Linked DNA regions of Homo sapiens. The protein of the gene in region 6 purifies or fractionates together with the protein of the main gene of each other region. This does not show direct contact. Each region holds a gene or a part of one and is shown on either strand. Other genes may lie near its edges. The genes, in order: TIAL1, RBM12, MTCL1, MYBBP1A, EIF3A, SBDS and HNRNPM.

Region 1 (4,465 bases), on a different chromosome or scaffold from region 6:
AGGTGTGAGCCACCACACCTGGTGGAATAAAGATCTTATTAAGCAGTGACGGCTTTTTTTGTGACTATTAGATATAGAAGGTAACTAATTCCAATACAGTTTTTCCTGAAGAAATTGATGTTTAAACAGTAATGGAAATTTAAAACTATTTAAATCATTTAAAATGTGTTATATTAAAATGATAATTCTATTTTAATTTTGTTATTAGCTAGCTTCAATATGTGAAAACCAGTTTTATCCATCCTTCTTTTCTCTTAGAAGTGAGCTAACTAGCCCTTTAGGCAAGGAGCATAATGTTTAGAAGCTCAAGATCACTTGTTCGTTTCTTTCTTTCTTTCTTTCTTTCTTTCTTTCTTTCTTTCTTTCTTTCTTTCTTTCTTTCTCTCTTTCTCTCTGTCTCTCTCTCTTTCTCTCTTTCTTTTTTATTTATTTTTTTGAGATGGAGTCTCACTCTGTCGCCCAGGTTGGAGTGCAATGGTGCAATCTCGGCTCACTGCAACCTCTGCCTCCCAGGTTCAAGCGATTCTCCTGCCTCGGCCTCCCGAGTAGCTGGGATTATAGGTGCGCGCCACCATGCCCGGCTAATTTTTGTATTTTTTGTGGAGACAGGGTTTCACCATGTTGGTCAGGCTGGTCTCAAACTCCTGACCTCATGATCCGCCTGCCATAGCCTCCCAAAGTGCTGGGATTACAGGCGTGAGCCACCATGCCTGGTCACTTGTTCATTTTTCTTACAGATAGGTCTACTCTGTACAAAAAGAAATCATTTCAGAGATACAGGCTCACAAACCCCTATGAGTTAAGAAGGGGCAAGCAGCCTATCGCTGGCTCATAACCCAATAACCTTTTAGTCCTGCTGGAAAAAGTATGTCACTACATTGGCCTGCTGATGGATCAGCTCCTTAATTACGTGGAAAAGGTGGCATAGTGGACGTAAAACAGTTTGTCACTTGTTTAGTCCTCTAGTTAGGTAATATTGGATGTGTGTTTCAATTTTAGAGCAGGTACACTAAGATTATTAGTACTCATTGCAATAAAATTCTTAACTGGAAAATCGCTACTAATTCTTAATTGGATCTTTTAAGTTTTTTACTTAACCTAAGCTTTCTCAGTCTATTTTTCCCTTTGAGTATTCCATCTTAAAGCATGTTGTGTATTTAATGTGGCAGCTATGTTGCAAGTCTTATTTTGGTCTTAATACTCAGTTTCCAGATGTAATATATTACAAGTAGAAAAAGAAATCTACTTTCCAGAATGAACTTTGTTAAATTTTACAGATATTGTTTGGTTTATGAGGTTGTTCATAACAGATGCAAATTTGAGGAATTATGTGTAGAATACCAGAAAGACTTTAGTGTTTGGCAATTTATTTAGATAAATTAAGATAAATCCATAGTACAAGACATAAACCAAGGTGGTCCTCTCTGTGTGATGAAGTAGCATTTTTTTCTTTTCTTTTTTAAACTTTCCTGTATTTAAAATCTTTTACACAAAACACATTCAATTGTAATTAGGAAAAAAAACCCAAATTTTTAAGTGTCCATAGTCAAAAGTATGCCTGGATTTGTCTTAGTTTTTCTCTGAATTTCTTAAGAAATCTTTGTATTAGCTTTTTTATCTACATTAAGATATATTTTGTTGGCTGGGCATGGTGGCTCACTCCTGTAATCCCAGCACTTTGGGAGACTCAGGCAGGTGGATCACTTGAGGTTAGGAGTTTGAGACCAGCCAGGCCAACATGGTGAAACCCCGTCTCTACTAAAAATACAAAAATTAGCCGGGCGTGGTGGTGCACGCCTGTAGTCCCAGCTACCTGGGAGGCTGAGGCAGGAGAATCGCTTGAACCTGGGAGGCGGAGGTTGCAGTGAGCTGAGATCATGCCACTGCACTCCAGCCTGGGTGACAGAGTGAGACTCCATCTCAAAAAAATACATATATATTTTGTTGATTCTGATGCATTTTAGACTAGGAAATTTTATATTTTACCCTGCTCTCCTAAAATGAAACAGTGAAGACATCATTGCAAACAACCTTACTCAGCCAAAAACAAAACAACAAAAACCCTCCACCCTCTGTATGTTTTACTATAACTTTAATTCTGTTCTTTGTTCATGTAATTGCTTTGGTTGGGAATCTAAGATAAACTCACTTTATGTTTAATATCCTATTACAATCAGATGTTTTAATGAATTAGTATTTGTTGTATGTGTGTGTGTGTTATAAATTATTTTTAATTAGAAATTGTAGTTATCTTGAGACCAGTTTAAAATTTTAACAATTAGAATAAGATGAGAAAATGATATCCAGGGTACAGAATAATAATGCCATTGGGGTATACAAGATCACATTGATTTGTTCTTTAAATGTCTTTCAGAGTGGTATTTTAGTGGCCTAAGAACAATTGTTGCTTTCCTAAATAAGGGTTAATCTTACTTTCATAGGATCAGGTTTAATTGGAGAAATTTTGTTGAAAACAGAGGAAGTTAAAATGAAATAAAAGGTGGCCGGGCGCAGTGGCTCACGCTTGTAATTCCAGCACTTTGGGAGGCCAAGGCGGACAGATCACCTGAGGTCAGGAGTTCAAGACCAGCCTGACCAATACGATGAAACCCTGTCTCTACTAAGAATACAAAAATTAGCCAGGCATGGTGGCATGCGCCTGTAATCCCAGCTACTTGGGAGGCTGAGACAGGAAAATCGTTTGAATCTGGGAGGCGGAAGTTGCAGTGAGCTGAGATCATGCCATTGCACTCCAGCCTGGGCAACAAGAGCAAAACTCCATCTAAAAAAAAAAGAAAGAAAGAAAGAAAGAAAGAAAAGGTGATGAATTAGATGATAACACATTAGAGCCAGAGCTAAAGGAAAAATTGCTGATAACGTATTTTTTTCTTGTGCAGATACGTAGGTAACCTTTCCAGAGATGTGACAGAAGTCCTTATACTTCAGTTGTTCAGTCAGATTGGACCCTGTAAAAGCTGTAAAATGATAACAGAGGTAAGATCTTCCCAGTTCCATGTGCTGACAATTAGCATGATGGGTTGATTAGCATGATTTTAAAATTTCATTGTAAGCCTCAAGTTATTCTGGTGGAGAGATTTGTGTTGTGTTGACTTATTACTTTGATTTGGCTGACAAACTAGGCTTAGAATGGAGTTTTATTTAAGAGGGCAAAGTTTCCGTGCTGTTAAGCTCAAACGGTCATTCTTCATGGTGTGGTTATCTTGAAGTGATTCTGCTTTCAGAACATTATTAGAGCTCATTTCAGAATGGTGAAAAATTGGAAAGTATTTCATACAATTCCAATAAGAATGTTAACGATTTAGACAGCATGTGTTCATGTGCGAGAACACGAAGTTATTATGTGTGTAGTGTGCAGCACCGTTCGTCTCGTGTGTCTGTAGCAAATACTTACCTTTTTATACTTTCCTGCTAAGACTGTAGCAGCACCCAATTAGTCATGTTTTAGGCTTTTCTTCCTTGTGTTTTTGTTCATTGATCAGCTTTCTTTTTTTTTTTTGGACTATTTCCTATGTACTAGATACTGCAGTAAGTGCTAGAGATACACTGGTGAATAAAGATAGTTCCTTGGCCCAGAGAATTTTACAGTTTAGTAGGGAGACAAAGGAGTTAGCAGGCACTTAGGAAGTAGGATAATAAATGCTCTAGAAGCAGACAACTTAAAGTGCTGTGGGAGCAAATGTGTATCCAGTGCAGCCTTAGGTCAGTGAGCGGCTTCTTGGAGGACTCACTGCCTAGGCGGAAACCTTGAAAGGATAGTAGTACATACTGGCTAGAAAGGAATTGAGGGAAGAAGGGATTCCAAATAAAGGGAACTTTGATCCAGGTTGGTAGGGAGAGCAGGAGTGCTTGAGACAGAGAGGGAAAAATAGAACCCGTAGCATGGTTGTAGTTAAAATGGAATTAGTCGTAAGAGATGGCAGGAGTTTATGGAAAGGGCTAGAAACTGTGCTAAAGAGTTTGTTTTATCCTGAAACGGAGAACTGTTAAAAACCTTTAAAGTGCATTGGCCTTTTGATTGTCTTTCCCAAGTAATGACAATCATCATTTTGTTCTGGTGTATTATATTTTTCCTTCCTGCCTTTAATTATTTATTTGTGCTTTCATCGATCAAAAATTTCCTTTGCACTAGGCACTATACAAGGTACTGGAGATATAATGGAGAGACAGCCAAATGAGTTTCCCAAGCAAATAGGGATGTAAGCCATGAAGAGAATAAAACAGAGTTCTGTGATGATTGGAGGGTTGGTGCTATATAGGCTAGGTGATGAGAGATGTCACCTCTTTGAGCTGAGATGAATAACAAGATGGTGCTATCTATGGTAAGAGCTGGAGGCAGAGGAAACAGCAAATACAAGTCTTGAGTTGGTAATGAACTTGTGTTTGTGGAATCAAAGACCGATGGCTAGAGTCTGGTGAGGGATGGAGGGGAGTTAAGGGAAATGAG
Region 2 (4,203 bases), on a different chromosome or scaffold from region 6:
TCTTGTAGCTAAAAACTTGGTGTGATAAACAGGAGTCTGACCTGGCCGTTGCCTTTTCTCATCTGCAGGTGTGTGTGGTTTCAGCGCAGCATGGCTGTGGTCATCCGTTTGCAAGGTCTCCCAATTGTGGCGGGGACCATGGACATTCGCCACTTCTTCTCTGGATTGACCATTCCTGATGGGGGCGTGCATATTGTAGGGGGTGAACTGGGTGAGGCTTTCATCGTTTTTGCCACTGATGAAGATGCAAGGCTTGGTATGATGCGCACAGGTGGTACAATTAAAGGGTCAAAAGTAACACTATTGTTGAGTAGTAAGACGGAAATGCAGAATATGATTGAACTGAGTCGTAGGCGTTTTGAAACTGCCAACTTAGATATACCACCAGCAAATGCCAGTAGATCAGGACCACCACCTAGCTCAGGAATGAGTAGCAGGGTAAACTTGCCCACAACAGTATCCAACTTTAATAATCCATCACCCAGTGTAGTTACTGCCACCACTTCTGTTCATGAAAGCAACAAAAACATACAGACATTTTCCACAGCCAGCGTAGGAACAGCTCCTCCAAATATGGGGGCTTCCTTTGGGAGCCCAACGTTTAGCTCAACTGTTCCAAGCACAGCCTCTCCAATGAACACAGTCCCGCCGCCACCAATTCCTCCAATTCCAGCGATGCCATCTCTGCCACCAATGCCATCCATTCCCCCAATTCCAGTTCCTCCTCCAGTACCTACATTGCCTCCTGTGCCTCCTGTGCCCCCGATTCCCCCAGTTCCTTCTGTGCCACCCATGACCCCACTGCCACCCATGTCGGGCATGCCGCCCTTGAATCCGCCACCTGTGGCACCTCTACCTGCTGGAATGAATGGCTCTGGAGCACCTATGAATTTGAACAATAATCTGAATCCTATGTTTCTTGGTCCGTTGAATCCTGTTAACCCTATCCAGATGAACTCTCAGAGCAGTGTGAAGCCACTCCCCATCAACCCTGATGATCTGTATGTCAGTGTGCATGGAATGCCCTTTTCTGCAATGGAAAATGATGTCAGAGATTTTTTTCATGGGCTCCGTGTTGATGCAGTGCATTTGTTGAAAGATCATGTAGGTCGAAATAATGGGAATGGATTGGTTAAGTTTCTCTCCCCTCAAGATACATTTGAAGCTTTGAAACGAAACAGAATGCTGATGATTCAACGCTATGTGGAAGTTAGCCCTGCCACAGAAAGACAGTGGGTAGCTGCTGGAGGCCATATCACTTTTAAGCAAAATATGGGACCTTCTGGACAAACTCATCCCCCTCCTCAGACACTTCCCAGGTCAAAATCGCCCAGTGGGCAGAAAAGATCAAGGTCAAGATCACCACATGAGGCTGGTTTTTGTGTTTACTTGAAAGGGCTACCATTTGAAGCAGAAAACAAACATGTCATTGATTTTTTTAAAAAGCTGGATATTGTGGAAGATAGTATTTATATAGCTTATGGACCCAATGGGAAAGCAACTGGCGAAGGCTTTGTAGAGTTCAGAAATGAGGCTGACTATAAGGCTGCTCTGTGTCGTCATAAACAGTACATGGGCAATCGCTTTATTCAAGTTCATCCAATTACTAAGAAAGGTATGCTAGAAAAGATAGATATGATTCGAAAAAGACTGCAGAACTTCAGCTATGACCAGAGGGAAATGATACTAAATCCAGAGGGGGATGTCAACTCTGCCAAAGTCTGTGCCCACATAACAAATATTCCATTCAGCATTACAAAGATGGATGTTCTTCAGTTCCTAGAAGGAATCCCAGTGGATGAAAATGCTGTACATGTTCTTGTTGATAACAATGGGCAAGGTCTAGGACAGGCATTGGTTCAGTTTAAAAATGAAGATGATGCACGTAAGTCTGAACGCTTACACCGTAAAAAACTTAATGGGAGAGAAGCTTTTGTTCATGTAGTTACCCTAGAAGATATGAGAGAGATTGAGAAAAATCCCCCTGCCCAAGGAAAAAAGGGATTAAAGATGCCTGTGCCAGGTAATCCTGCAGTTCCAGGAATGCCCAATGCGGGACTGCCCGGTGTGGGACTGCCCAGTGCAGGACTTCCCGGTGCAGGCCTGCCCAGCACAGGACTGCCTGGTTCAGCAATAACCAGTGCAGGACTGCCTGGTGCGGGAATGCCCAGTGCAGGAATACCTAGTGCAGGAGGTGAAGAGCATGCCTTCCTGACTGTAGGATCAAAGGAAGCCAATAATGGGCCTCCATTTAACTTTCCTGGTAATTTTGGTGGATCAAATGCCTTTGGGCCACCAATCCCTCCTCCAGGATTAGGAGGCGGGGCCTTTGGTGATGCTAGGCCTGGTATGCCTTCAGTTGGAAACAGTGGTTTGCCTGGTCTAGGACTGGATGTTCCGGGTTTTGGAGGTGGACCAAACAATTTAAGTGGGCCATCGGGATTTGGAGGGGGCCCTCAGAATTTTGGAAATGGCCCTGGTAGCTTAGGCGGTCCCCCGGGGTTTGGAAGTGGCCCTCCTGGTCTTGGAAGTGCCCCTGGGCATTTGGGTGGGCCACCAGCTTTTGGGCCTGGCCCCGGCCCCGGCCCCGGCCCTGGCCCAATCCATATTGGTGGTCCCCCTGGCTTTGCATCTAGTTCTGGAAAACCAGGACCGACAGTAATTAAAGTGCAAAACATGCCCTTTACTGTGTCTATTGATGAGATTTTAGATTTCTTTTATGGCTATCAAGTAATCCCAGGCTCAGTGTGTTTAAAATACAATGAAAAAGGTATGCCCACAGGTGAAGCCATGGTGGCCTTTGAGTCTCGGGATGAAGCCACAGCTGCTGTCATTGACTTAAATGACAGGCCTATAGGTTCAAGAAAAGTAAAACTTGTATTAGGGTAGCCATTCACATCATTTTTTATAGGGTAGATCTTCATATTGCTGTGATTAATGCATCCAGATTGTTTTCCTAGTATTTCCAGGTTAGAACCTGTGGATTGTTTCAATTGCATATAGCTTGGTTTCCATAACATAGAGCATTGGTTGACTGTTTACAGAAGACTCACTCACCAGGATAAACATTGCTGTATGTTACAGTAAAGCTATCTGGAGAGAACACATAAATGATTTTGGCATACCATTAGAGAAACCATTTGTAAAACTCAAATGACCACATAAAGCTTATCAAGGAGTCTAGATTGGTTTTGTTTTATACCATATGGGATGAAGAAAATAGAAATGTCAGTAGAACTCATTGAGGGTGCTCTTGCCAGCTGCTGAAAATAGAAGTTGGCTACTCTCAGAATTTGGTTTAAAGCTGGACAGATTTGCTTTGTTATAGGGTAAAGCTTTGTCTAAAGTCCTCATTTTCTTTTAAAATTGAATAAAATTTCTGTATACAGATTCATTGTATGTACCTTTATTGCTTCTTAAGGGTCCTTGCTGTATAGACAGTCCTGCTTCAGAAGTTGCTGCTTTGTTTGTCTAATTGACTCATTTGTAAATGAGCAGAACTGTTTTGTTGGTTTTTTTCCCTAAATATAAAAGTCCACACTTCGTTTGTGCTATAACCTCAAACTTTGATTTCTAATGTCACACTTAAAACTGTGTGGAATAAGACTTTTGCCATAAAAATAAACTATGGAGTCCTTTATCTACCAGAGCCTTTTTGGTTTGACCGCCACGATTTAGGTTAGTCAGTTTAAAAATTGTTCATGTTGTTTGGATGGTATCGAAAACCAGAAACCACTTTTAATAATGTGTTTAAGATACTTGATTTGAAGTCCTTTTCATATGGACTAATTGTAGTATCAATTTCCTCCTGTCCCGATTATGTGAAATTTTGGCCTTTAAACAAAGAGGGGCCCATTCATAAGAAAGTGTTATATCTAGGTTTTTAAAACTGAAGTTGAAATTATCTTTGTTAGCAGTAGTAGTATAGAATAAAAGATCCGTATGCTGGTTCGTAGATTGATACGTGTTAGTCCTGTTATTTGGAGGCTTTTTGGCATAGTTGTTCGATCAGGAGCCTGTTTACTAAAAGTCTTCATACAGAGTACAAGTGCAGCCGCCAGAGGAGAAAATTGAGATTCTTGACCCTTTCATACTCTTTTCTTTGGTATTCAGGACACTAAGGCAGGAGGACCACATGAGTTCTGGTTGGTAAGTGTCCTTGTCATGAAAACACTTGCCTTACAAGGCTCTAATTATGATTTC
Region 3 (4,465 bases), on a different chromosome or scaffold from region 6:
TGTTTGAGTTCATTGTAGATTCTGGATATTAGCCCTTTGTCAGATGAGTAGGTTGCAAAAATTTTCTCCCATGTTGTAGGTTGAACCCAGGCACTTTCTTAATGCTGAGGACTTTGGTAAAGCGCTGGTGTGTTCCTTCCCTGCCAGGCTGCCAAGACTGTGTTTTGCTCGAGTGCTCGGAGACAGTCAGACAAGCCGGAGTGCTCGTTGTCAACATATTAATTATGTTCTCTGTTTCCACAGGCTTTTCAGGAGGATTTAATCAGTTGGCATTTATGAGCCTATTTTGAAAATGCTTTTAGCAGCCATAACCCCACACCTCCCCCACCCCCAAATAGTGTCCTCTTGCCATGCTGACCTCCTGCAGGGTGGGTGAGGATTGGGGTGGGAAGAGCTGTTTCTTTTTGCTTTGCTTTGCTTTCTCAGTTATTTCATAGGAAATATTTTTCTGTTAAAAGAAAACAAGTTGGTGCTAGATACAAGGGCAGAGAAAATTGGCTTCTTGGAGAGGAATGATTTCCTAAGGGAGAGGTTGAGTTTTGGTTTTATAGGTTGCAGTGTCTCACTGCTGATCCAAGCTTACCATCCTGCTTCTCATTGGAGTTAGCCTTTTGAGTTTCAGGCCCTGACCTGGTTTTTGACATTTGGCAGCTGGGCTGCCCAGATGCCGGGTGCTCAGTGTGGCCTGGGGGTGGAGGGGCACTTGGAGAGGAGCGCAAGCAGTGCTCTGTAGCTGAGGTGTCTCAGCGCCTCCTTGCTCCCCGCCTCCTCCTCCTTTCTCTTTCAGAAGGGTTAACATGGACAGTATTCCCCATTCTTTCCTGACATTCGCTGTCCATACCCACTCTGTATTCAGCCACTGAAAGAGTGGCTATGATCATTTTCAGTGGCAGTTAATGTAGACAAGGGCTGCGGCCACCAGCTGCTGGCTGGACCATCACCTGGTAGACAGTGGGAGTCGCCCTGCACCTCCTTAGTTACAGCTGGGACTCTTGGAGAACATTTCCCTTGTCTGGAGGGAAATGAGGTGGATTATTCGTATGTTACAAAAGACAGTAGTTTCTGTCTGCCCAGAAGATAGAATTATTGCAGCAGTAGCCAGAGGACTCCTTCTACCATCCAAACTGGGTCTATTTAAAGAGGAGGTGCTAAAATAGAGATAGTTACTGATTTTGGGTATTTAAAAGAGATTAAGATTTTCATATAGTTATTAACATGATTAAGAGTTTTCATCACTTATACTAAGAAGCCATGGATTTGACTTTTATTATATATTCATGGATAAAACTATCCTTTTAGAGGTTTTCATTAAAACATATAATTTTAATCTTGGTTTACTCTAGTGCACACCTGGTACCTCATTATTCCTCTAATTTGAGATACATGATAAGGCTTGATTTGTCAGCCACAGGCAAAGGGGAATAGTCGACTGGACTTCACAGTACTTCAAGATTTCGTTTTATATACAAAACTTTAAAAAGGTATTTAATTAAAACTAGCTTTTCAATGAGATAATGATTTAATACTTAAGTATCCTCCAGACTTGATGTTAATTCAGTAAAAAACTATTAAGGACAGCTTTTTCTTATTTCCGTGTATAAAAAGACAACAGCGATTTTCCAATTTTATGTACTATCTCTAAATTACACCTGTCAGAAACATCATATGCTCTGCTCGATTTGGTTTACTTAAATTTTTAGTTGGCAGATGTCATTAAGGTTCTGCAATACAGTTTTCTAAATTGGAGCATGCCGTCAGAAAATTAATGTAATGTTAGTTTGAAAATCACTATCCATCATGACCCTAATTCCAGTAATCATAGTTTTTGCTTTTCAGATGGCTGCTGCCAGCTTACATGGTTTATAATTTGCTTGTCTTTAACTTCTTTTCACTGAACCTGAAAATTACTTTTTTCTAGGCTCTCTGGGAAGAGTTGAAACACTGGCCCTGGTCCTATTGCTGCAGCAGACCAATAATGGTGGAAAGCCATTTATACTTTTAGAATCTCAGTTTCCTCGTTTTAAAGATGGGAGTATTAGCCAGGCATGGTGGCATGTGCTTGTAATCCCAGCTACTCAGGAGGCTGAGGCAGGAAGATCACTTGAGCCCAGGAGCTCAAGGTGGCAGTGAGCCATGGCTGCACCACTGCGCTCCAGGTTGGGTCACAGAGTGAGACTCTGTCTCTTTAAAAAAAGCGGGGAAGGGGCACGGATATCTTTACCGCACGTTGCAGTGTCTTCCTAAGAACCAGTTGCCCTAATGGATATGCTTTGTGTCGTCACTTGTCGAGCTGTAAATGTTAGGCTGCTTTTTTTGTTTTACACTGATGGTGGACTTTTAAAAGTACAATTGAAGGTCTGTTATTGTTTCATTTGTCCAGGTTGAAGCAAATAATTTATGGTATTTACTCGAAAGAGTGTGTGATTGAAAGCAGACAGGCCTGGGTTTGCAGTGTGGCTTCAATTTACTAGATGTGAAGCTTTGGACACAGGTAACTAGCCTCAGTTTTGTTTTTTTGTCTATCAACTGCATAATGTGTTCCTGACAGGGTTATTGTAGGGTTAGTAATGAGGGTGAGGTGCTTAATAAACGACGCCTGTTCTGTAAATTTAGGTAAAATATGAATTATAAGAGCAGTGATTTAAATACATGCCGTTATGGTGCATTGGTCCATTTTTATACTTCTGTGAAACACTAGACTGGGTAATTTATAAAGAAAAAAGGGTTTAATGGACTCACAGTTCCACATGGCTGGGGAGGCCTCACAATCATGGTGGAAGACAAAGGAGGAGCAAAGACACATATTACATGGAGGCACGTAAGAACGTGTGCAGGGAAACTGCCGTTTATAAAACCATTAGATCTCTCTTGAGACTTACTCACTGTCACGAGCAGCAGAGGAGAAACCCGCCCCCGTGATTCAGTTACCTCCCACTGGGTCCCTCCTGTGACACGTGAGGATTATGGGAGCTACAGTTCAAGATGAGATTTGAGTGGGGACACAGCCAAACCATATCATATGATCTCTCCCTAATTTTCTTTTCTCTTTTTTTTTTGAGGTGGAGTCTCACTCCATCGCCCAGGCTGGAGTGCAGTGGCGCGATTTCCACTCACTGCAAGCTCCACCTCCCGGGTTCACGCCATTCTTCTGCCTCAGCCTCCCGAGTAGCTGGGACTACAGGTGCCCGCCACCACGCCTGGCTAATTTTTTTTATTTTTAGTAGAGACAGGGTTTCACTGTGTTAGCCAGGATGGTCTTGATCTCCTGACCTTGTGATCCGCCCGCCTCGGCCTCCCAAAGTGCTGGGATTACAGGCGTGAGCCACCGCACCCGGCCCCTAATTTTATTTGCAGTACAACTAATGTTGGTGATTATTTGTGCCAAAAAATATTGCTATTTACATCTGGTCTGCTCAATGATGTGGAGGTGTGGGTGCATCTAGCCCTTGAACAGTTTTCATAGCCTGTAACATCTGTATGAAAATGCAGCATTTAACATTAGGGTGGATGTGGGCTCTCCAGTTGCAAAGTCTGAAAGCTAGAGACATTTTATACCTGGAAGCTGTATCTTGCATCTTAGGGCTATATTGCATTTTAAAAACTTTTGTCTTAGTTGCCGATAATCCCAGGCATTAATGACTTTGGCAGGCTTTCTGGAAAGAAAAGCAATCACAAACCATTCTTTCCATGAACAGAATGGCCAGAGTCACTGTATATTTGTATGTGTGGATATACATGTACATATACATATACAGATATTGACTTAGTGTTGAACATTTAGTGATTATTGCTTGTATTGAACTGATTTGTATTAATGACTCAGTGAAACAATTAACCTCTTTACTCAGAAACAAGCATTGCGGTTAGGTTCTTTCTCAAAGTCTGATCCATTAGTTTCATGGATGGGGTGTGAATCAAACTTGACGTTGATTTTTGAAGATTCAGAACTAACTTCCCACTCTATCGAAAGAGTGACAACCACAAGGCTCATTTTAAAGCTTTCAGTCTCCAGTTGACCTCCTCTAGGAGTGGGTAGTGCAGGGGCACAGCTCCCATAGGGCGTCTTCAAAGCCTCAGTGATCAGGCATCAGTAACAACCTCCTGTTTGTGGAAGGTTTGCAGAAGGTTGTCAAGCACTGTCCTGAAAGAGCTGTGTTCTCTGGTCCCCTGAAGAGCCCAAACCACCCATTCTGTTTATGTGTGTTCAGCTGATCAGCTCCTATGCTCAGTCCAGTAACTTCCAGTTCCAGCAGATCTTCCCACAAGGACCAGGATTTACCAGGAGAGATTTCCATGGAGGAAAAAAGAAATGAAACTTGGTTACGAGTTCACAACATTTTCAGTGTTAAGATTGATCTTTCTTAAGACACATTAGGACATCTTATACTTTTAATATTTTCATCATTGGTATAGAAATTCTGTAGGAGCACTTAGGAGCCAAGAAGAAGAACATTTTATGCATTTG
Region 4 (4,465 bases), on a different chromosome or scaffold from region 6:
TCCCTCCGCCCTCCCCAGGGCTCGGTCTCCCGCCTCTCCAGGACCTACTAGAACTCCGGGGGCCTCTGCCGTTGTTCCCAGCTTAGGGGACCTGGAGGGAGCAGGCGCCCTCAAGGCCTTCCCACCTTCGGACCTCTCCTGGGCTGCCCAAGACTCACCTGAAGAAGGCACTGCTGACAGCCTCTCGGGCCTGGTTTTCCAAAGGGAAGGAGAACGGGTGCTTTGTCTCAGGGATCTGGGATGTGGGCTTCTTTGTGACAAAGAACGAGTGGAACAAACAAAACCTGGGGAGGGTGGGAGAGTGGCCATAGCCATTCACTGCCATTGGTTTTTACAGGCTCCCCTCCTTGGATGGTACCACCGAGGGTACAAGGCCAGGAGGAGGAGGAGCCGCCCTTCTGCCCTGGGTACAGTCCTCGGGGGCCTGACGGGCAAGGCTGGAGGGGGCTGGGCTGGGCTAGGATGGGAAGGGGCCGTTTCTCTGCTCTGGATCCCCAGCTGAACGCGGGTTAACCCGAGCTAGAGAGAGTCAGTGCCCCTCTCAAGGAACCAACAGATGGGAGGCTGTGTGGTCATGGCCAAGTCAGGTCACTGCTCCTGCGAACATGGGACAGCCCCCTCTTGCAACCGTGCATGTTGAGGGTGACGTGAGCACCCAGCTCTGCACTGGCACAGACGAGGCAGGTGTGGGGCAGAAGGCTTCCCTGACACCTCCCACGTGCAAAAGCTGCCTGCAGGGCGCGCAGAGCACACCTGAACCTTTTAGGCCCCTGCAGCTGGGGTGCCTCCTGGGCCCCTTCCCTTCACGGGTTCCTGAGGAATTCCCAAGTCCCCTTGTGCCTGCCCCCCACTGATGACTCAACCCAAAGGCTTCTGGCTCCAGGGGATGCAAACTAGGACGAGTTAAGGGGCCCCATTCCTTGGCCACACGCCCATGGGAAGCTGGGAATCCAGCACAGCTCGCACCTGGCCACCTGCTCAGTCAAGGCCTCCTCCATCTCCAGGTGCAGGCTGTCCACAATGCTCACCAATCGAAAGATGATCCATTTCCTCAGCCGGAACACAGCTCGCTCAGGCCTAGCGGGGCAGGAGGCGAGGTCATGTGAGCCACTTATAACTGGCAGAAACAGGCTGGGCCCAGTGGCTCACACCTGTAATCCCAGCACTTTGGGAGGCCAAGGCTGGCCAATCACTCGAGGTCAGGAGTTCGAGACCAGCCTGACCAACACGGTGAAACCCCATCTCCATTAAAAATACAAAAATTAGCTGGGTGTGGTGGCGGGTGCCTGTAGTCCCAGCTACTGGAGAGGCTGAGGCAGAGAATCACTTGATTGCTTGAACCCGGGAGGCAGAAGTTGCAATGAGCTGAGATCACACGCCACTGCACTCCAGCTTAGGCCACAGAGAGTGAGACTCTGTCAAAAAAAAAAAAAAAAAAAAAAAAGAACCAGCAAAAACAGGACATTCCTTTGCCTGATCTCAGAGACAACACTCCAAGATCTCCCCATCCCGATCGCCAGTGTGGGGACACACAAGTAAACTGAGGCCTCATATGAGAGCTAAGGCTCTTCCCCCTCGCTCCTCTCATGGTTTAGAGCCAGGACGCTGTGGAGGGCGGGCTTGGGTCGCGGGGCTCTGCAGGCCTAGGAAGTTAACTCCTAAATTAGGTGTCCTCCCCCAAGGTCCACTCACATGTGGAGCGATGAATCCTGGGCTTTCTTCTGGTTGTTGGTGCTGAAGTCAACCAAGGAGTCCAGGTCTGGCTGGAGAAACATGGCCCGCAGCCAGGCCACATAGCCCTGCAGGGCCGGAGGGCTCAGGAACCGCACGACCCGCCAGAAAGTAGGCGTGACAGGGAGGCCTTGGTTGGTGACAGATGAGAAGGCCACTAGCACGGCCAGCTGCCGCTCAGGGTCATCCTGGCACCCCTCTAGGAAGGTGCCCACGTAATCGTCCATCTCTGGGGCAAACTTGAACTGCTTTGGGAGCTGCAAGAGTTAGGCATGGCGCTGAGCCCACCAGCCCAGGGGGGCAGGCGGTTAACAACCCAACAGCCAAGGGGGCAGGCGGGCAACAGCCCAACAGCCCAACAGCCCGGGGGCAGGCGGGCAACAGCCCACCAGGCTTGTGCCCACTACAGGTTAAATCGAGCCCCGGCAATCTCCTGTTGTACACAGCTAGGCTGTGCCTGAACTTGCAACAGTCCAGTCACCCCAGTGCTTTTGTCTGGCGTCAAGGCCTCTGTGGGTCTGACTGCCCCAGCTTCAGCACCTCCGGCCCCAGAAGGCCCCTCTTTCCGCCTTGCTGGATGGGGATGGCCTGTTTTCCTGGCTCAACGCAGGGCAGAGTGGTAGTTAGGAGGCGAGACTGACCTGGGTTCAAAGCCCACGCTGCCAATTCCTAGCCGTGTCATCTTCGGGACCAAAAACAACCACCTCTCACGCGCTTACTCAGTGCCAGCACCCGCGCTCCGCCTTTTTGGGCGGCAGCTTAGCATTTTTAGCAACTCTTTGCGGTTGGCCAATATTGTCATTGCACAGGTGAGTACAGTGAGACACAAAAACACCTAGAGGTAACTTCTCAGGGTCAGAGGCTCCCAGTGGGATAGTGTCCGGCTTCACAGCCCAAGCTGTTTTCCTTTCAATTTTTTAGACTTGTGCCCCTGGCATGTAGTGCCATGATCATGGCTCACTGCAGCCTCAAAATTCTGGGTTCAAGGGATCCTCCCACCTCAGCCTCCCGAGTAACTGGGACTACAGGTGTGCACCACCATCCAACCCAAGCTCTTAACCACTGCCTGATACTTCAAGTCTCCCCCTCACCCAGAATGACAGCTCTCTGAAACTCACTGCAAAGATAAAATGAGCTGGTGAGAACAGTCAACCCAGCAGCACTTACTGGGCACCAGGCTCACTGGTGCCCAAACATGGTCATGACGACTGTTCTCATCACTGCCACATGGGCGGGGGCGGAGAGAGGTCTGAACAGCCCGCTGGCTATCCATGCCCACAAGGGGGCCTGCTGGCAGAAGGGCCTGACTTTATCAAAACTGTCAGAGGGAAGCCAGGTACAGTGGCTCACGTCTGTAATCCCAGCACTCTGGGAGGCCAAGGCGGGTGGATCACCTAAGGTCAGGAGTTCGAGACCAGCCTGGCCAACATGGCAAAATCCCGTCTCTACCAAAAATACAAAAATTAGCTGGGCGTGGTATTGGGCGCCTGTAATCCCAGCTACTCAGGAGGCTGAGGCAGGAGAATCGCTTGAACCTGGGAGGCGGAGGTTGCAGTGAGCCAAGATCTCACCACTGCGCTCCAGCCTGGGCGACAAGAGCAAAACTTCATCTCAAAAAAAAAAAATTTGTCCGAGGGAAAGGGGTTCAGGCAGCTCACTACCCAGACGGAGGGGACACCCATAGCTCTAGCCAAGCCCCCGAGGTGCCCTGCTCCCCTTTTTGGCAGGGAGAGCTCCACGTCTAGCCTTTCTGGCAGTGTCGAGCTGCACGGGCATTACCCACCTTAGCAGTGCACACGTGCTCCCCGTAATGGCGGATCACGTCTCCCTGCATCACCAGGTGCAGCTGCTCCTTGGTCAGCAGGGGCAGGGCCGCGCCCAGCAGGCGGAAACACAGGTAGCTAAAGGGGGTGCAGGACAGAGCCTGGTCAGAGCCCTTGGTGCCCCTGGTGGGAACCTCAGGACTAGTGGCCTAGCCCACTTCACGGACAGGGAAGGGGGCCGAGAGAGGACACGCGTCGCCCGCACCTGGCTGGCCAGAACTGCATCTTCAGCAGCCCTTGTTCCACCACCTCCTTCCAGAACCGTGGGAACTTGTCTTCCTTGAGTGCCAGGCGGAGCAGGTCCAGAGCAATGGCGGGCAGCTTGCGGTCCTTCTTCACAGAGGAGGCGGCCATCTTCAGCACATTCACCAGCCTGCGGAGGGCAAGGGACTCAGGGAACACTTGCCTCACAGGCAAGGGCCAGGGTGACAAGAGCAGCCGGGACACCCCCAGGCCAAACGACAAATCTGGGCCTGGCCAGATGCAGTCCCTTGGCCCCAGGGAGGGCAAATCCGCCCACCTCCATCACACCTGGGGACATTCTCATCTGAGAATAGGTTCACGGATCCCACCAGCTTCTTGAGCTTGGAGGGCACCTTCTGCTGGGCCAGGAGGAAGAGCTCTAGCTGTTCAGGGGAGCTGAGTATTATATTCAAGTCGGCTTTGAGGACCTCCGGCAGGATCTCCTGCAATGTGGCCTTCGAGACCTAAGGATGGAGGGAGAAGAAATCGTGACTTCCTCTGCGGGGTGAGCCTGGTGGATCCTGTTCTACCTGCTCCTGACACGGGGCCACCTGGTGAGGTATCAGAGTCATCAGAGGCCAGTTGCTAACAAAACTCAAATTCCCAGGCAGCGGGGTTTTTGACAAGCATCCCACTGACGCTAACTGGCCCCTGGAGGTACCTGCCCC
Region 5 (4,465 bases), on a different chromosome or scaffold from region 6:
TGCCTCGGCCTCCCAAAGTGCTGGGATTACAGGTGTGGGCCACTACGCCTGGTGAATTTTTATATTCTTTATAGTGATGGGGTTTTGACATGTTGCCCAGGCTAGTCTCAAACTCCTGGGCTCAAGCAATCCTCCCGCCTTGGCCTTCCAAAGTGCTGGGATTACAGGTGTGAGCGACTGTGCCCAGCCGCATGTCTTACAATTAAGTAGAGATGGGTTTTGCCAGGCCAGGCTGGTCTTGAACTCCTGACCTCAGGTGATCTGCCTGCCTCTGCTTCCCAGAGTGCTGGGATTAAAGGTGCGAGCCACTGCTCCGGCCCATACTGAAGTTTTTAAAAAGCATGTGAAAAAAAAAATCCCCAAAGGATCATATGCTTTTTTATTTTATATATTTTTAATTGTTCTTGTTGCTGTGTAGGGAGTGGAGACGTGGAGAAGGGCGAGATGAGGACAGGTCTCATAGAAGAGATGAAGAGCGGCCCCGGCGTCTGGGGGATGATGAAGATAGAGAGCCCTCTCTTAGACCAGACGATGATCGGGTTCCCCGGCGTGGCATGGATGATGACAGAGGCCCTAGACGTGGTCCTGAGGAAGATAGGTTCTCTCGTCGTGGGGCAGACGATGACCGGCCTTCCTGGCGTAACACAGATGATGACAGGCCTCCCAGACGAATTGCCGATGAAGACAGGGGAAACTGGCGTCATGCGGATGATGACAGACCACCTAGACGAGGACTGGATGAGGACAGAGGAAGCTGGCGAACAGCTGATGAGGACAGAGGACCAAGACGTGGGATGGATGATGACCGGGGGCCGAGGCGAGGAGGCGCTGATGATGAGCGATCATCCTGGCGTAATGCTGATGATGACCGGGGTCCCAGGCGAGGGTTGGATGATGATCGGGGTCCCAGGCGAGGCATGGATGATGACCGGGGTCCCAGGCGAGGCATGGATGATGACCGGGGTCCCAGGCGAGGCATGGATGATGACCGGGGTCCCAGGCGAGGGTTGGATGATGATCGAGGACCTTGGAGGAACGCCGATGATGACAGAATTCCCAGGCGTGGTGCAGAGGATGACAGGGGCCCTTGGAGAAACATGGATGATGATCGCCTTTCAAGACGTGCTGATGATGATCGGTTTCCCAGACGGGGTGATGACTCAAGACCTGGTCCTTGGAGACCATTAGTCAAGCCAGGTAAAATTCTATTTCCTAGAATATGCTTAAGTGTTCACCTGTAAAAGTGAAATTCTGATGGATAAATATCAGGGCTGTATTGTTATTTTCCAGATAAACTGGTCTTTCATCTTTCCTTCAGTATCATTTGCAGTGACTTCGCTGTCAAAAGTTTGCCTTCAGAATACCACCATCCAAAACATAAATAACCCAACCCCTCTCTTCTTTAGTGATGTGCTCTTTGTTTTCCTTCTGCTTCGATGACTGCTTCTTTGAAGGCTCTTCCTGTACTCATGCTTTCAGTATTGGTGTATTTTTCAGGTTTTACTGGGAACCAGCCTCCTTTTAAAAATAAATAATTGAAACCAAAATGTACTTTATATATTTATTTTTGCCAACTGAGAGATTATGCAAGGAGGAACTCATTTTACTTTACTTTTTTTGAGACAGGGTCTTGCTCTGTTGCACAGGCTGGAATGCAGTGGTGCAGTCATGGCTCACTGCAACCTTGACCTCCCGGACCCTAGGGAGCCTCCCACTTCAGCCTTCTGAGTAGCTAGGACTACAGGCGCATGCCACCACACCCTGCTAATATTTTATTTTTTGGAGAGACGGGGTTTCGCTATGTTGCCCAGGCTGGTCTCAAACTCCTGGGCCCAAGTTATCCTTCTGCCTCTCCCTCCCAAAGTGAAGTGCTGGGATAACGGGTGTGAGGCGCTGCGCCCAGCCTCATTTTTTTTCTTAGTCCTGGGCCTGCTTATTGTTTCACACTTTATTATTCGTGAGCAGTTGTATACATGTTTGTGACATGCGTCTATTACCATTTTTTTTCTTTTTGAGGTGGAGTCTTGCTCTGTCTCCCAGGCTGGAGTGCAGTGGTATGATCTCAGCTCACTGCAACCTCTGCCTCCCAGGTTCAAGCAATTCTCCTGCCTCAGCTTCCCAAGTAGCTGGGACTACAGGCACATGCCACCATGCATGGCTAATTTTTTTTTTTTTTTTTTTTTTTGGAGACGGAGTCTCGCTCTGTCATCTGGCTGGAGTGCAGTGGCGCGATCTCCCCTCACTGCAAGTTCTGCCTCCCAGGTTCATGCCCTTCTCCTGCCTCAGCCTCCTGAGTAGCTGGGACAACAGGTGCCTACCACTATGCCTGGCTAATTTTTTGTATTTTTAGTAGAGATGGGGTTTCACCATGGTAGCCAGGATGGTCTCGATCTCCTGACCTCTTGATCCGCCTGCCTCAGCCTCCCAAAGTGCTGGGATTACAGGCATGAGCCACCACGCCCGGCCATTTTTTTGTATTTTTAATAGAGATGGGGTTTCACCATGTTGGCCAGGCTGCTCTCGAACTCCTGACCTCAAGTGATCCACCCACCTCGGCCTCCCAAAGTGCTAGGATTACAGGCGTGAGCCACTGCCCCGGCCAGTTTTCTCTAGGTAATTTCTGCGTACTGCACACAGGTGACAGCTGCTTACTGCATATAGCACATCTCCACTTGGTAGTCTTACTGAATGTCTAACACAGCCTATCCAAAACTGGACTCATTACCATCACATACACGTGCACTTGTTCACGCCCACCCATCCCTCTGATTCTCTTCAGGGGCATCACTGTCCATCTAACTGTCTGAGCTAGGATTCTGGGAGTTGTTTTGTCTCTGTTTCATCCTTTATGTTAAATCTTTAGTTCAGTTCTGCCTTTTTGATGTTCCTGAAATCCACCCTCCTCTCCATTCCCATTGCTTGTACTTGGTCCTGGGTCAGCATCATTTTCCTCACCCGCTAACTGGTTTTTGCTGCCTCTCTTACTCCCAGTTTTAATTTTGGGTGTCAGGGAAATAACCAGAGCAGTTGTTGTAAGTGCAGATCTAAGTGAGCTGCTTCCTTGCTTTCCCCAGTTGTTTCTGTTGCCTACTTCGTCTCTTCTAGTCTCACTTCATTCTGCTGTTCGGCTGTTACCTTGTGTAAGACATTTAATTTTTCTTTTCCTCATGTTAAATGGGGTAACAGTATAGCAGATTCTTACTAATTTGCTAATTATATTTTATACAGTTGCCATGAATACTGAACTCATGTTCCTAGGGTAAATACAAGGTTAGGTTCTTGTAAGCTTCTAGTCATGATATTTTTGTCAACCAATCAATACATAAAATGTCTTTTATGTGTTTGTGTTTAAAGACTCCCTATTTCTGATATGTTGTTGATTCATTACCATTGAATTCATGGTCAACAGCATTATAACTCATTCATGAACAAAGCTTATCTAATACATGTATTTTCTCCTTAAGGCATATCATAGCCACCTTGTGCTTGGGGCCACTAAACAGCATTTGTTTTTTCTCTTTTTGAGGTGGGGCCTCACTGTCTCCCAGGCTGGAGTGCAGTGGCGTGATCTCAGATCACCGCAACCTCTGCCTCCTGGGCTCAAGAGATCCTACCACATCAGCCTCCTGAGTAGTAGACTATAGGTGCACACCACCAAGCCCAGCTAATTTTTGTATTTTTTTGTAGAGATGTGGTTTTGCCATGTTGCCCAGGCTGGTCTTGAACTCCTGGGCTCCAGGGATCCACCCTCCTCAGCCTCCCAAATTCCTGAGATTACAGGCATGAGCCACCACGCCTGGCCACTAGACAGCATTTTAGCACTACACTTGGAGGCCATTTTAAACAGTGAGGTCACCAGCAAATTTACATCTCTATATGTACTGTATATAAAATGTTCCTAGATTCATATATTCCATGCATAAGTGTGAGCCACTGTGCAGGGTTAAAGGATTTATTCATGATTAATGACTAGATAATGGGTGGCAAATGGTGGAGGACAGGAATATAAAAGGAAAGATTGTTTTTTGGATATGAAGGGCTTGAAAACGTTGCAAGGTATAAATACCTCAAAATTGGGACTCAGAGAAAACTCTTGAAGTTTCTGCTTAAATGAGTGATCTGTGTAACATCAGAACAGATACTATGCTGAAATCTGCGTGCAATAGGAAAAATTCTAAAATTTTCAGTGATACTTTTGTTTTATGGAACACTTAACACAGATCATTTAAGGTTTTTGGTATTTTTTTTTCTTTTCCTGTTTGTTTTTTGAGACAGTCTCATTCTGTCATCCAGGCTGGAGTACAGTGGCACTATCTTGGCTCACTGCAGCCTCTGCCTCCCAGGTTCAAGCAGTTCTCATGCCTCAGCCTCCTAAGTCAAGTAGCTAGGACTACAGGCGCACCACCACACCTGGCTAATTGTAGTTTTAGTAGCAACAGGGTTATTACCATGTTGGCCAGGCTGG
Region 6 (3,669 bases):
AAAATCAAAATCTCTAAAGTCCAAAGCCTGAACTTCTAATATCTTGAAAATCACAGTTCCAAAAGATTGAATCCTGGCTGGGCGCGGTGGCTCATGCCTGTAATCCCAGCACTTTGGGAGGCCAAGGCAGGTGGATCACCTGAGGTCGGGAGTTCGAGACCAGTCTGACCAACATGGAGAAACCCTGTCTCTACTAAAAATACAAAATAGTCTGGCGTGGTGGCACATGCCTGTAATCCCAGCTACTCGGGAGGCTGAGGCAGGAGAATCACTTGAACCTGGAAGGCAGAGGTTGCGGTGAGCCAAGATTGCACCATTGCACTCCAGCCTGGGCAACAAGAGCGAAACTCCATCTCAAAAAAAAAAAAAAAAGATTGAATTCTGAATGATGAAATTCTGAAAGCTGAATTCTGGCAAAAGGATTAGCACTCTTTGAGTTGTATGCAGGATAGTCGCGTCTGGTTAATTGCATCATGTGAGGAAAAGCTAGGACCTTGTTATTGTCTTCATTTGAAAATTAAAAATGGTTTAAAGAGATGAGTCTGGGTGCCAAGTTGATAAGGGGTGGAATTGTGGATGTAATTTTAGGTGTCAACTTGACTGGAAAGGAATCCCTAGAAGCCTGATAAAGCATTGTTTGGGGTATGTCTGTGAGGGTGTTTCCAGAGGATATTAGTGTGTGAACCTGGTGACACTAAACACAGAACATTTTAAAGAAGCAGCGAAACCATTATGTCCTTATGACCTCACCCCACAGCTTCAAACACAGTGTAAATTGAGCTGTCTACAAATTCATGTTTTCAAGGCTTTGCAGCTTATTTATTTATTTATTTATTTATTTATTTTTGAGACAGGGTTTCACTCTTATTGCCCAAGCTAGAGTGCAATGGCGTGATCTCAGCTCACTGCAACCTCTGCCTCCCGGGTTCAAGCGATTCTCCTGCCTCAGCCTCCCGAGTAGCTGGGATTACAGGCATGTGCCACCTCGCCCAGCTAATTTTGTATTTTTAGTAGAGACGGGGTCTCTCCATGTTGGTCAGGCTGGTCTCGAACTCCCGACCTCAGGTGATCCACCCGCCTCGGCCTCCCAAAGTGCTGGGATTACAGGCTTGAGCCACCGCGCCCTGTCTGCAGCTTCTTTTTAAAAGTAAATGAGCTGTAGAGAAGTGTTGAGTATGTGAGTATCCACTGTAGATGTGAACTAACTCATCTGACACTACTTGAAGTTCTAAAATCTTTGCAAAACTGTACACATGGGCCAGGCACAGTGGCTCGTGCCTGTAATCCCAGCACTTTGGGAGGCCAAGGTGAGCAGATAACATGGTGAAACCCTATCTCTACTAAAAATACAAAAAATAAGCCAGGTGTGGTGGTGGGTTCCTGTAATCCCAGTTTCTTGGGAGGCTGAGGCAGGAGAATCACTTGAACCTGGGAGGCGGAGGCTGCAGTGAGCCAAGATCACACCACTGCACTCTATCTCAAAAAAAAATAAATTAACATACACATGGTGTCTACATAAGTCTTCACATTGCTTTTTCTCCTTCATACGTGGAGGTGACTTTACTGAGCTATAAAATGTAATGCTAAATTTTAGTATGAGAAGAATCAGAGTTTTCTAGTTTGTCCCTTCCATTTACAGCTGAAGAATCAGAATAAGTGTTTAAACATAGGGATTAATGCCTTGTCACAGGGGGCTACATGGACACTTGAGGGCAGAGGCTAAACTGGAACCCAGTGTGCCGCCCTACCCATTGTCTTATCTATTGCACCATAGAACTGTGGTATTATTAGAGATCTGGACAGCATTGTGCTTGCCTCAAAGGAAGTTAAAGCTGAGTTTATTCTGTGTCTTGCTCATCCTCATGTGGTAATCTGCTACGTTAAATGTTTCAGGTATGTCTGATTGACCCGGGCTGCTTCCGAGAAATTGATGAGCTAATAAAAAAGGAAACTAAAGGCAAAGGTTCTTTGGAAGTACTCAATCTGAAAGATGTAGAAGAAGGAGATGAGAAATTTGAATGACACCCATCAATCTCTTCACCTCTAAAACACTAAAGTGTTTCCGTTTCCGACGGCACTGTTTCATGTCTGTGGTCTGCCAAATACTTGCTTAAACTATTTGACATTTTCTATCTTTGTGTTAACAGTGGACACAGCAAGGCTTTCCTACATAAGTATAATAATGTGGGAATGATTTGGTTTTAATTATAAACTGGGGTCTAAATCCTAAAGCAAAATTGAAACTCCAAGATGCAAAGTCCAGAGTGGCATTTTGCTACTCTGTCTCATGCCTTGATAGCTTTCCAAAATGAAAGTTACTTGAGGCAGCTCTTGTGGGTGAAAAGTTATTTGTACAGTAGAGTAAGATTATTAGGGGTATGTCTATACAACAAAAGGGGGGGTCTTTCCTAAAAAAGAAAACATATGATGCTTCATTTCTACTTAATGGAACTTGTGTTCTGAGGGTCATTATGGTATCGTAATGTAAAGCTTGGATGATGTTCCTGATTATCTGAGAAACAGATATAGAAAAATTGTGCCGGACTTACCTTTCATTGAACATGCTGCCATAACTTAGATTATTCTTGGTTAAAAAATAAAAGTCACTTATTTCTAATTCTTAAAGTTTATAATATATATTAATATAGCTAAAATTGTATGTAATCAATAAAACCACTCTTATGTTTATTAAACTATGGCTTGTGTTTCTAGACAACTTCCTAACTCCCTTTCTTTTCTCTGCCTGTGTCTGTGGTAGGGTTAGGGAGTTGTCAGGAGAACTGAATAAGTCCATATGAAGAGTGCTTAGAACAGGGCCTGTACTTGTAAACACCTGAAAAATTTTTGCTAACACTTGGGATGTAATTGGGAAGAATTATTTTAGTATTTAAACACTTAAATGGACAAGATGCAAGCTTTTAAAAATCTACTTCAAGGCCAGGGGAGGTGACTCACACCTGCAATCCCAACACTTTGGGAGGCCGAGGCAGGCGGATCACCTGAGGTCAGGAGTTTGAGACCAGCCTGACCCACATGGTGAAACCCTGTCTCTACTAAAAATACAAAAATTAGCCAGGCATGGTGGTGCACGCCTGTAGTCCCAGCTACTCGGGAGGCTGAAGCAGGAGAATCACTTGAACCCAGGAGGCAGAGGTTGCAATGAGCTGAGAATGTGCCACTGCACTCCAGTCTAGGTGACAGAGTGAAACTCGGTCTCCAAAAAAAAGAAAAAAAATCTATTTCAAAAGATACATTCTAGAATATAAATTAAATTCACTCAAAATAAACATACAGATGTATTTCTGGACAGCAGTTTTTAACTGAAGACAGGCTTCTTGACTTGAAAAGGTACTGATTGGTTTATAAGCACACACAACTCCCTGCTAATACAAGCTCTCAGAAATGTCCCTTTAGTTTAAAATAACTAACATTGAGGTTATAAAGTCAAAATTTTTTCTTATATTGTTAACAAAATACATTGATAACATGGGAATGAACACTTTTTCTGTTAATGCTAAAGCTAGGCTGCTGTTTTGATACAGCTATTTGTTCAATATATCAATAGTTCTATCTTAGTAAAAAAATATAAACATTTAATAGAACATTTCCTTAAGATTTTCTGGGGCCAGGCGCAGTGGCTCCCACCGGTAATCCCAGCACTTTGGGAGG
Region 7 (4,465 bases), on a different chromosome or scaffold from region 6:
ATAAACCAACGGAGAATGCAGACTCGGTTACTGCTTGCGGAAACACCTGCGAAACTCAGGAATCACAGCCCCAACGAGACCACGGTCAAGCCTGTGACTTAGGAATGCAGACAAAGCCCGCCTATAAGGCTGATTTTTAAAGAAATCAAGAACAAAACCCTTCTTTACATTTTTCTTCTCAAATGTGAGAATTACTTTTATAACATATTGACAAGGTCATTTCATAAAGTTCTGATTTTCTACTTTAGACGATGGTTCTGTTTACTTACATTTGCTACAAATACTGTGCTTCCAAGTCTTCCAGCCTGTAATGCATGGATAATCTCATTTGGGATGTTGGGATTATTTAGGATACTGGGTGGGATAGTAATCATTCCTGGGCCACCTGGTCCCATACCCATCCCACCAGTCGTAGCCATCACCTTTTGCATTGCTCTCCTGGCATGTTCACCATCAGGATCCTAAAACAAGCACAAAAGGTGTTACGTTTAACTGACCCAGTACAACGCAAACCATGCTTGCACAGTAAATGATATTCTCAAGACTTAGAAACTGAAAGGTTGTTTGGAAAGCATCTCTCAAATCTATTAACAAGAAAGTCAAATGAACTCAACTACCAGCTTAGAAGAGTCCAGCTAAAGAAATAGGAAAGGAAGAAAAGGCATGAAGTGTAGCACTAAAAACACAGCTCTCAATTGCACTAAGTAAAAAAGAAAAGCAGGGTAGGGAGGGAAACATGATTAGCTGATATAATGTAGAACCGCCAGACTGAAATTAGAGCTTCATGGGCTTGGTATAGCTGAATCTTACTAATTCATCAATGGGGTTTTGTAACTTCTGCAAACCCCGTCAATGGCTTCCAGAAGTTTGAGAAACAGTTCTAGACCACACAAGCGCCCCCATCCTTCAAGTCCTTCAGGTGTTGGAGGCGTGTGTGTGAGGGCTGCGCAGTAAAACAACATCTGGGAAGGTCTGTGAAGCTCTGTACTGACTCTCTTCTTCAACTCTCTGTCCTGTCAATTACCACCATCAGCACTAAAAAAGACATCATAACACATGAGAGACCTTAGACCCTACCAAGCTTCACTCTGAATCTACTCATCTTCCTCCCCAAGAGAAGAGGTGAAAAGAAGTTAAGAGGGATGTTTTTTTGAGACAGAGCTTTGCTCTTACTGCCCAGGCTGGAGTTCAATGGCGCGATCTCGGCTCACTGCAACCTCCGCCTCCTGGGTTCCAGCGATTCTCCTGCCTCAGCCTCCCGAGTAGATGGATTACAGGCACCCCCCACTACGCCCAGCTAATTTTTTGTATTTTTAGTAGACAGGGTTTCACCATGTTGGTCAAGCTGGTCTTGAACTCATGACCTTGATCCACCCACCTCAGCCTCCCAAAGTGCTGGGGATTACAGGCGTGAGCCACTGCGCCCAGCCAAGAGGGATTTAATCAACAAAAAAACCTTCTTCCTCAAGGAATATATTTGATTCAGATGAGATGTGAAAGCAGGTTTGAGGAATAACAAACTCACTTTATTTTTTTATTTTTTAGACAGGGTCTCACTGTTGCCCGGGCTGGAGTGCAATGGTGCAATCTCAGCTCACTGCAACCTCCACATCCTGGGCTCAAATGATCCTCCTGCCTCAGCCTCCCAAGTAGCTAGGACTACAGGCATGCGCCACCATGCCTGGCTAATTTTTGTACCTTTTGTAGAGAGGGGGTTTCACCATGTTGCCCAGGCTGGAACAAACTCACTTTTTAAAAAAAGAAAAAAGATGGGCCAAGAAGAAGGGTCAGATGGAGTAAAACTTAATGGCACAAACCCACGGGCTCATGGTTTGAGAGTCCCTGAGACAACAAGGCCTCAGACAAATCACAGATATTAGAAGGTGGTCAGCAGCCACTCAGGATCTGCTTGGCCACCACCCCAAAGTCCTTGCAGGGAATGGCTGCTGTAGGCTATGACCGACACTCTTCATTAGAAACAACAGGCTGGCACTTGCTTTGTAAATGCCGTCTGGGACCATGACCGTCTTTCCCTAATTCCAAAGTAGGATCACTCAACAATTACACACAGTATCCGCAGTGTTAAGCAAGAGCTTACTTCTTTGACTTTCAGTGGTCTTCCGCTCAGACTATGCTTGTTTAGGACTTCCGCAGCTTTTTTCATGCTCTCTTCCATCTTGAATTCAACAACACTATAGAGTCAAAAGGAAACGAGTCGAGTGAAACCAGTCCTACAAGTTAGAAGGCTCAAATACCAATAAGTAACTAGACGATACTTACGCACATCCCTTTGGAGGAAGCCAGAGACCAGTCAGAAGAGCAAGGAAGGGGAAAAAGAAAAGAAAAAAATAGTAAATATCAATGACAGTTATAAACAAACTAAAAATATGATTTATGTCACAAAGTTAGTCTTTTAAAATGAACCCTTCTAAGGGGAAGCTGACAGAAGTGCCTCGCCTCGCCTTCCTTGTTAAAAGCTGGGCTCCTTAATATCTCCTTCTCCTACGCGTTACCAGCATTGCACTAGAGCTGCTGACATTTAATAAGCAGACCTAAATTCAGGGTCTCCAAGAAATCACACCAACTTTAGATCTGCTTCCCTCTGTACTCAATCGAGTCCTTACCATATTCCTCCTAAATCCATCCCTTCCGTAAGTTAAGCTCATCCTTTTGATTATTCTAAGCCATTCTATTGCACGACAGAAAATAGTTTATGTTCTCTTTAAACTAGGCCAATTTTGAACATTCAGGTTTTTAATATTTGGTTTACAATTTACTGGCACAAAGGCAACTTTTCGGAATCTTTGGTTCACACAACTTTCAAATTCAGCAAACAACCAAGAGTAACATTTTCTAGACAAGAACACACGTTTTACATTAATTATACCACCGCTAAAATTCCATGCATAATTCACACACAGCCAATTCCTCTGTTAACAAAGAGACAATGCTGCTATTGGTCCCCAGTTATCCAAATTGGGCATCCAAACAGAATACCAAAAAGCTCTTTGGCCAGCCATTTGGAAAAGCGGGACTCCCATTTGCAAATCCCCTCCCACCCCACTCAAATGTTTGGCAAAATCAAACATAGCTACTGTAACATGAGCACTCACTGCCTTCCTGATTTCATTCGATTCCACGCCACCATACAGTTACATTTTTCATGTAGTAAATCCACAGAAGAAATTCTCTCAGACACTTACCCTTGACTTTCCTTCAGCGTCCATTAAGAGCTCCACGTATGTTACCTCACCAACTACAAATCAGTTTCCAGACGACACATAAACCAAGGGAGAAAAGCCAAGAAAACAATGGGAATTTAGAACAATCATCAGCAACCTTGTATGGAGCCTCTGCCTTATAAGAAAGCCCAGAAACACTCCATATTCTCTAAACCACCGAACTAGGCATTACAGGTGTGCAGTAAAAGTAGGTGAAAACACGTTAACAATATGTCCTTGATTTTCCTCCCACCACAAACAAGCTATTCCACAGATTTCCGTATCAATTTCCCTGTCTGGAAGACTCATTCATGACTAGAGGCAATCCAAATCTATAGGAAAGAAGTCTGCGTGATTTACTTTTCTGGGGAAGGGAGGAGGTTTTACACATACGCTCTCATTGGTGGCAAGCAGGTGAAATGCATACAAATTGCGATGCCATCGGGCTGAGCTCACATGCTATAAATACAAGGACGCACGTATGCGAAGGTATAAGCTCACAGGCACACACGGCCGCAGGGCCAGCTTCACAGGTGAGCAACTCGTGCAATTGTACAGAGCCCCGCACTCAGGGGCCCTGAGCTTGGTTTAATGCTGTTATCGCTGCCATGACATTCTTAGTTTTTTTTTTTAACAAGAGGCCCCTTGTTTTCGTTTTGTGTTGGGCCCCACAAATTCTATAGCTGGTCCTGCACACAGCACTAGGCTCCACATCTGTAGAGGCAGAATGTTTGAATATAATAAGATCACAAAACCAGAGCAGCATCTGGATTCTCTTCAGTGAATTAGGCCAGGCTTCATTCTTGCCGCTTTCTAAACCTCCCCATTTAAAGGACACAAATAAATTCAAATTTAGGGCTCAGATTTTGTATCTAAACAGTTAAACAGACTCATATGATTCTAATCTACACAAAAGGGAAAAAACCAAAGCATTTCAAAAGTTTCTGCAGATTTTCCTCAAGGTTTGGATTGCCAATTCATGACCACCATGACCAGATGTTAGAATCCATCAAGACAACCACCAAAATGGCTGCTGAACTTGAAGATGGCACACAGAAAACAAATGTAAAGTGTTACCCTGGAGAAAACTATCTCTAACCAGACTCTCCAAAGGCAAAAAATGGGCTTTTGTTGTCCTCTGGATCGGTTTGGTTTAGCAGTACAAGGGTAAAAATAACCCGCTTAACGGCCTCAACAAGTCATGCCTATTCCAACTCTTTTGTTTAAAGGACATTAAAATTATG

Evidence for each region.
Region 1: the proteins of SBDS (region 6) and TIAL1 fractionate together in Homo sapiens (co-fractionation; one large-scale study listed by BioGRID). This does not show direct contact.
Region 2: the proteins of SBDS (region 6) and RBM12 purify together in Homo sapiens (co-immunoprecipitation; one large-scale study listed by IntAct). This does not show direct contact.
Region 3: the proteins of SBDS (region 6) and MTCL1 purify together in Homo sapiens (affinity purification with mass spectrometry; one large-scale study listed by BioGRID and IntAct). This does not show direct contact.
Region 4: the proteins of SBDS (region 6) and MYBBP1A purify together in Homo sapiens (affinity purification with mass spectrometry, with the first as the bait; one study listed by BioGRID). This does not show direct contact.
Region 5: the proteins of SBDS (region 6) and EIF3A purify together in Homo sapiens (affinity purification with mass spectrometry; one large-scale study listed by BioGRID and IntAct). This does not show direct contact.
Region 7: the proteins of SBDS (region 6) and HNRNPM purify together in Homo sapiens (affinity purification with mass spectrometry, with the first as the bait; one study listed by BioGRID). This does not show direct contact.

Annotation. Positions count from the first base shown.
Region 1 is NC_000010.11:119,586,681-119,591,145, reverse strand, and holds part of TIAL1 (nucleolysin TIAR), read left to right. Parts: intron 1-2,897; coding exon 2,898-2,994; intron 2,995-4,465. UniProt on the Homo sapiens protein: RNA-binding protein involved in alternative pre-RNA splicing and in cytoplasmic stress granules formation. Shows a preference for uridine-rich RNAs.
Region 2 is NC_000020.11:35,651,210-35,655,412, reverse strand, and holds part of RBM12 (RNA-binding protein 12), read left to right. Parts: intron 1-68; 5' UTR 69-90; coding exon 91-2,889; 3' UTR 2,890-4,203. Other genes in the region: CPNE1 (copine-1), read left to right, coding at 1,871-1,885.
Region 3 is NC_000018.10:8,711,759-8,716,223, forward strand, and holds part of MTCL1 (microtubule cross-linking factor 1), read left to right. Parts: intron 1-2,383; exon of another isoform or gene 2,384-2,491; intron 2,492-4,465. UniProt on the Homo sapiens protein: Microtubule-associated factor involved in the late phase of epithelial polarization and microtubule dynamics regulation.
Region 4 is NC_000017.11:4,548,366-4,552,830, forward strand, and holds part of MYBBP1A (myb-binding protein 1A), read right to left. Parts: intron 4,262-4,465; coding exon 4,086-4,261; exon of another isoform or gene 4,075-4,085; intron 3,928-4,074; coding exon 3,760-3,927; intron 3,633-3,759; coding exon 3,515-3,632; intron 1,989-3,514; coding exon 1,693-1,988; intron 1,078-1,692; coding exon 967-1,077; intron 285-966; coding exon 159-284; intron 1-158. UniProt on the Homo sapiens protein: May activate or repress transcription via interactions with sequence specific DNA-binding proteins. Repression may be mediated at least in part by histone deacetylase activity (HDAC activity).
Region 5 is NC_000010.11:119,038,726-119,043,190, reverse strand, and holds part of EIF3A (eukaryotic translation initiation factor 3 subunit A), read left to right. Parts: intron 1-418; coding exon 419-1,197; intron 1,198-4,465. UniProt on the Homo sapiens protein: RNA-binding component of the eukaryotic translation initiation factor 3 (eIF-3) complex, which is required for several steps in the initiation of protein synthesis.
Region 6 is NC_000007.14:66,986,724-66,990,392, reverse strand, and holds the end of SBDS (ribosome maturation protein SBDS), read left to right. Parts: intron 1-1,893; coding exon 1,894-2,022; 3' UTR 2,023-2,713; downstream 2,714-3,669. UniProt on the Homo sapiens protein: Required for the assembly of mature ribosomes and ribosome biogenesis.
Region 7 is NC_000019.10:8,461,320-8,465,784, reverse strand, and holds part of HNRNPM (heterogeneous nuclear ribonucleoprotein M), read right to left. Parts: intron 3,257-4,465; coding exon 3,204-3,256; intron 2,289-3,203; coding exon 2,281-2,288; intron 2,193-2,280; coding exon 2,099-2,192; intron 462-2,098; coding exon 270-461; intron 1-269. UniProt on the Homo sapiens protein: Pre-mRNA binding protein in vivo, binds avidly to poly(G) and poly(U) RNA homopolymers in vitro. Involved in splicing.